2 separate regions of the Homo sapiens genome follow, and region 1 is linked to region 2. The links come from fine-mapping of genetic effects on gene expression. A gene starts in region 2. The other region holds a variant in brackets. All regions are shown on one strand. Distances are between the middles of the regions. Region 1 overlaps LOC124900954 (a long non-coding RNA gene). Region 2 holds the start of SUB1 (SUB1 regulator of transcription).

Region 1 (2,912 bases), 56 kb before region 2:
CTGGGGCTCAAGTGATCCTCCCTGCCTCAGCCCTCCAAGTAGCTGGGACTACAGATGGGTGCCAACATCAAGTAGCTGGGACTACAGATGGGCGCCACCATGCTAGGCTATTTTTTTGTGTATATGTGTGTGTATATATATAGAATATATATTCTATATATTCTGTATATAGATATAAATATATATTATATATATAAATCTATGTTTTATATATATATGTGTATATATATATATATATTTTTTTTTTTTTGTAGAGATGAAGTTTTGCCATTGTTGCCCAGGCTTCCCTCAACATTTATATGTTGAACTCCTAACCCCTAGTGTGATGATATTAGGAGATGTGGGTCTTTGGGAATTGATTAGATCTTGAGGGTAGTACATTCATAAATAGAATTAGTGCCCTTATAAAAGAAGCTCCAGAGAACTCCCTTGCCCCTTTTGCCTTGTGAGGCCTTCTGTGAAACAGTAAGTAGGCTCTCACCAGATACCAAACATGCCAGTGTTGTAATCTTGAACTTCCCAACCACCAGAACTGTTAGAAATAAATTTCTATTGTTTATAAACTACCCAGTCTATGGTATTCTTGTTCTAGCAGCCTAAACAGACGAAGATGCCTATAATAGTTGTTCAATAGGCCGGGCGCGGTGGCTCACGCCTGTAATCCCAGCACTTTGGGAGGCTGAGGCAGGTGGATCATTTGAGGTCAGGAGTTCGTGACCAGCCTGGCCAACATGGTGAAACCCCATCTCTACTAAAAATACAAAAATTAGCTGGGCGTGGTGGTGGGTACCTGTAATCCCAGCTACTCAGGACGCTGAGGCAGGAGAATTGCTTGAACCGGGACCTGGGAGGTGGAGGTTGCAGTGAGCTGAGATCGTACCACTGCACTCCAGCCTGGGCGACAGGACTAGACTCCATCTCAAAAAAAAAAAAAAAAAGTTGTTCAATAAATATTTGTTAAATGAGTGCCAAAGGATAATTTTCTTTTTTTTCTTTCCTTTTTTTTTTTTAGGCTAAGTCTCCCTCTAAGAGTAAAAAACATGCTGCCATCAAATATATAGTGAGCATGTGTCAAATATCAATCTAACTCATTTAATGAAGAGACCAGAAAGATAATAAATCTGGTTGAAGGAGAATTCAAGGAACAGAGGTTTGTATAGCAGAAAAGACATGCTGAAATAAGTTAGCTAGGTTAAAGGGAAATCTAGTTTATGTCCTACAGGTTAATAAACTATAATCTTTAGGATTGTCTTTTCTGTAGAATAGGAATCATTTGGGTCTCTAACAGACAAAAACCTACAAGTTAACACGTAACTTCATAGAATCTGGACCCTAATGATAATAATTAACAAGTCAAACAAAGGTACATTCTCCAGATGAATAACACTTGGGTGGACCTGTTCGGACAATGCTCCAGCATGACAGTGAAAGGACATACAATTATCTTTTTGCCTTAATTCTAAGATTAGGACATTAAAAAAAATAGAAGACTAAAAAATATAGAATGAATGTACAAGTGCTCCAACTGAAGTTTGGAAAGGGGAGGTCAGTCTGTTGGGGGGCAAGGCACAGGGGCATCTGCTTCATCAGGTCTTCCCCCAAAGCCATCATCACTGGATCCAGCATTCATTCTTTGAGAGCCAGCCAATGTTTCATTTTCTCTGTGAAGTCTGTCTAGATTTTCCTCTCACTCCCTATCAGGCAAACTGAGGTGGACAAACCTTGTTTTCAAGATGGTGATTGTGGCCTGGCACAGTCGCTCAAGCCTGTAATCCCAGCACTTTGGGAAGCTGAGGTGGGAGGATCGCTTGAGCCCAGGACTTCAAGACCACCCTGGGCAACA[C/T]AGTGAGATCCTGTCTCTGCAAAAAATACAAAAAGTCTGGGCCGGGCACAATGGCTTATGCTTGTAATCCCAGCACTTTGGGAGGCTGAGGTCAGGAGTTCAAGACCAGCCTGGCCAAATGGCGAACCCCCCACCCCCACCCCTCCGTCTCTACTAAAAAACCAAAAATCAGCCAGGCTTGGTGGTGCACACCTGTAGTCCCAGCTACTAGGGAGGCTGAAGCACAAGAATCACTTGAACCCAGGAGGTAGAGGTTGCAATGAGCCAAGATTGCGCCACTGCACTCCAGCCTGGGCAATAGAGCAAGACTCTGTCTCAAAACAACAACAAAAACAACAACAACCAAAATTCACCATGCATGGTTGGCATGCGCCTGTGGTCCCAGCTACTTGGGAGGCTGAGGTGGGAGGATGGCTTGAGTCCAGGAGGCTGAGGCTGCAGTGAGCCGAGATCGCACCACTGGACTGCAGCCTAGGTGGCAGAGCGAGACCCTATCTCAAAAATAAAAAAGATGATGATTGCTGTCAAGTCCCTAGATTTTTTTCCTGTGACTTGCTTATCCCTGGTTTGAGCCAAGACACTCTATTACCCTTGTTCCCCTTACTTCCCAGACCCTATTTTTGTCTGTGGATTATACATGAGAGCCCATGTGAGGATTCCCACAAATAATTGAGATGGGGTGTGAAGGAGAATTTGAAAGTGAGAGCCCAGTTTTTTTCTTTTTTTCTTTTTTTTTGAGATGGAGTCTCGCTCTGTTGCCCAGGCTGGAGTGCAGTGGAGCGATGTCGCCTCACTGCAACCTCCGCCTCCTGGGTTCAAGCGATTCTTCCGCCTCAGCCTCCTGAGTAGCTGGGACTACAGGCACACACCACCGCGCCTGGCTAATTTTTGTATTTTTAGTAGAGACGGGGTTTCACCATATTGGCCAGGCTGGTCTCGAACTCCTGACCTCGTGATCTGCCCGCCTCAGGCTCCCAAAGTCCTGGGATTACAGGCATGAGCCACCACGCCCAGCAAGAGCCCAGTTTTTACAAACAACAGATGAGTGCTAGGGGGCAGGACAACGCAA
Region 2 (2,912 bases):
TGTATTTTTGTCAGCATTTAATCCTTTAAAAGTCAGGTAATTCTAGAAAGGGACGTGTGGGGGATGCTTTCACGTTTAGTGTTCAGACTTTGATTCCATCCGCTGTGTTCTTTGCGTCTCAACCCCATTACACATTCCGCTCCCAGCTTTAATGTTTGCAGGGAATATATAACTCTCTTCTCCTATAAGGGTGGGATGGGTGGGAACCACAGGTCTAACTGCTCCATATGTAGATCCAAACACTCCTCCCTTTCTGCAACCCACTGCCCTTCCTTAGCCTCTGTGGCATCTCCGATGTGCAATTCTGAGCTTCGACAGGATTCCATCCTCTACTTTGTAAAATCCCATACCATTCCTCTACCTGAGGCAGGAAAATAGGGTCTGGAGGGAGAGAACATAAGGACAATTCACGCTTCAGCTGTAACAGGAAATATCCTCTCCATAGGGCGTTAACTTTGGTTTCCTCGTCTATAAAATGGAGAGAACAGTCATTTCTGCTTTGGAACATGCTTGTTAGGATGAGTAATGTAAATTGCCTCCTGCAGCGTCTGACACGTAGTGGGTGCTTGATAAATCTTTGTTAATAGATATGCCTTTATATTGATTCTTAGCTGTAGGAAGTATTCATTCAAATACATATTCAAATAATCTTTTAGCTATATTCCTGCTTGTATATGGATTCCTCTTGCCTTCTGTGAACTCCCTTACATCTCCAGGACTTCAATACAGGAATAAGGAGTACTCCAAAGATTTCTTGCACTTTCTGGAATTAAACGCTGTGACTTTAGCTTCCTTCCTTTGGATTTTAGGAGGCAGAGGCATGTATTGAGGTGGGTGAAGTGGGGTAGGAAGACCATTTCTGGGAAAATGGGCCAGAGTATTGATCTTTTTCATTATGACCCCTTCGCTTCATTAGAGTAAACATTTATTGAACAAACGCAAAGCTTGGCGCTTGTCACTCATGTTTTATTGGCGTTTTCCTTTTTTTTAATTTTTTTTTAAGCTATCTCCTACAGGAAGGATATTAGCTCTTTCATTCTCTCAAGGGTCAGATGTAATCTTCCAACATCTGACTTTCGCGTCACCCATTTAGGAAGAGACGCGGTCCCTTTAAGGCCCTGGAAAGGGTCTAAGTGTTGGTTTCTGTGGGGAGGCCACGCCCCATCACGTGACCGCAGCCCCAGCGCGGCGGGGCCGGCGTCTCCTGGCTGCCGTCACTTCCGGTTCTCTGTCAGTCGCGAGCGAACGACCAAGAGGGTGTTCGACTGCTAGAGCCGAGCGAAGCGTGAGTGCGCGGGACCCCCTACCCCTACTCCTCGGGGCCCCCACCCTCCCAGCCGGGCCGTGAGCTGCCTTCGGCCCTCCACTCCTCTCGCCGGCAATGGCCGCGGGAAATGGCGGCTCTGCCTTACCTCCCCCTTCCCCTCGGCGTCCCCGGCCCCCTTCTCCGTTTCTGACTCCACGCCTGACGCGCTGTGGGCCCTTCCGCGGTAGACTCCTGTCCCCGGGGAGCCGAGTCGAGGCGGCGGGCGCTGCGGCCCGGGGCGGTAGATTGAGGGCGGCCGGGGAGTGAGGAGTCGCGGGGAGAGAGTCGCGGCGTCCCCGGGACAATGCGGCGGCGGCCTGCCTAGGTGGGGCGCGTGCGGTTACCTACTCTTCCCCCGCCCCTCGCCCTGAGCGGGGCGCTCTGGAGACTGGGAGAGCGGATGCGGGCGGGAGGGGGCCGGGGGAAGAACGGCTGATGTGCAGGGGGAGGGAACGCTTCGAGAGAAGAAAATGGCGCTTGGTGCAAATCCCGCCCCTTCCCACGCCGTCTTCTCCGCACTTCGCCGCCTCCCACGCCCCCTCCGACCAACCTGTCTCCCCTCGCCCGAGCGGCTGCTAGCCACGGGGTTCTAGCGGCTTGCTGGGGCCGCGCGACCCCTTCCCTGGTCTTGTGCTTGTCACCTTCCTGTTATACCGAAGTCGTGTGCCCTTCAGTCCTGGTTCATTTTCACCTCGTTTTTTTCTGATCTTTCCCTCAATCAGCAAAGGCTGAAGATTTCGTTTCTCTTTTTAAAGTTGCGTTTTGTATAAATTCTACAATAGTGGTTTCAGTATCAGTTACTTGAATTACAAGCTGCTTCTCCCCCCACCCCCACATTGGAACAGGCTCATTAAGGTAAATATATATTTGTTAAAAGTTTAGAGGCTGGTTTTAGTTACCGTTACCTTTCTTCTCCAGTGGACTTCTTTGGGTTGAGTACCAGGTGGTTCTTTGAAAAATTCTTAGGCCCCCAGGCAGTTTTTGATAACAGACGGTAGTTATGATCGACAGTTTCAAAGTGAAAAATTATGTTCAATTTAATTACCTTTTTAAAAAATATCTTTTTGTCGTATTAATTAGCATAAAAAACTTAACTAAATTGATTTTAGAGATGAGGTTGCAAAATGGAGCAGAAACAGGAAAAACGGATAAAACGTGGTCATGAACATTGCTTTTCCCTTCTGAATTTACCCTTGAAGACATTACCAGTTAAAATCAGATTGAGCTTTTTGAATTTAATGGCTAGGATTGGGGTGGCCCACTTCTTTTTCCTTGACCTCCTATTTTGGAACATATGCAATGTCAGTGCTAATGCAAGTTTCATCTAGAGAGCTAGATTATTTATGATTTTTTTTTAAGGAGGAATTTTAAGTCTTTTTTTCTTGTATTAAACAAATACAGTGTGTGATGTGTTTATTAGGCCCTTTAACGCATACAGAAATTAGCTAATTTATGCCTAGTGTTCCATTATTGGAACGCTAAGCATGTGGGAGTTATTTATGTGCTACTGCTCAAGATCATCGCCAAGGTCTGCTTGCATAAATTCAAAAAATTGCAACCTCTGGCATAAATGGGTTAATAGGACCTAATCTCTTCTGAGATGGGG

What was found.
Region 1: its variant is fine-mapped to the expression of SUB1 in whole blood (INTERVAL, PIP 0.90).

The regions. Positions count from the first base shown.
Region 1 is chr5:32,528,234-32,531,145 of GRCh38, forward strand. LOC124900954 (a long non-coding RNA gene) reads left to right here. Exons shown (of 5, transcript XR_007058719.1): 3 at 1,013-1,150. Among named protein-coding and RNA genes, the nearest start is that of SUB1, 56 kb to the right of the region's middle. The variant C/T (reference allele first, on the strand shown) is at 1,844.
Region 2 is chr5:32,584,341-32,587,252 of GRCh38, forward strand. SUB1 (SUB1 regulator of transcription) reads left to right here and starts at 1,217. Exons shown (of 5, transcript NM_006713.4): 1 at 1,217-1,285. RefSeq lists silencers at 1,391-1,490, 1,531-1,800.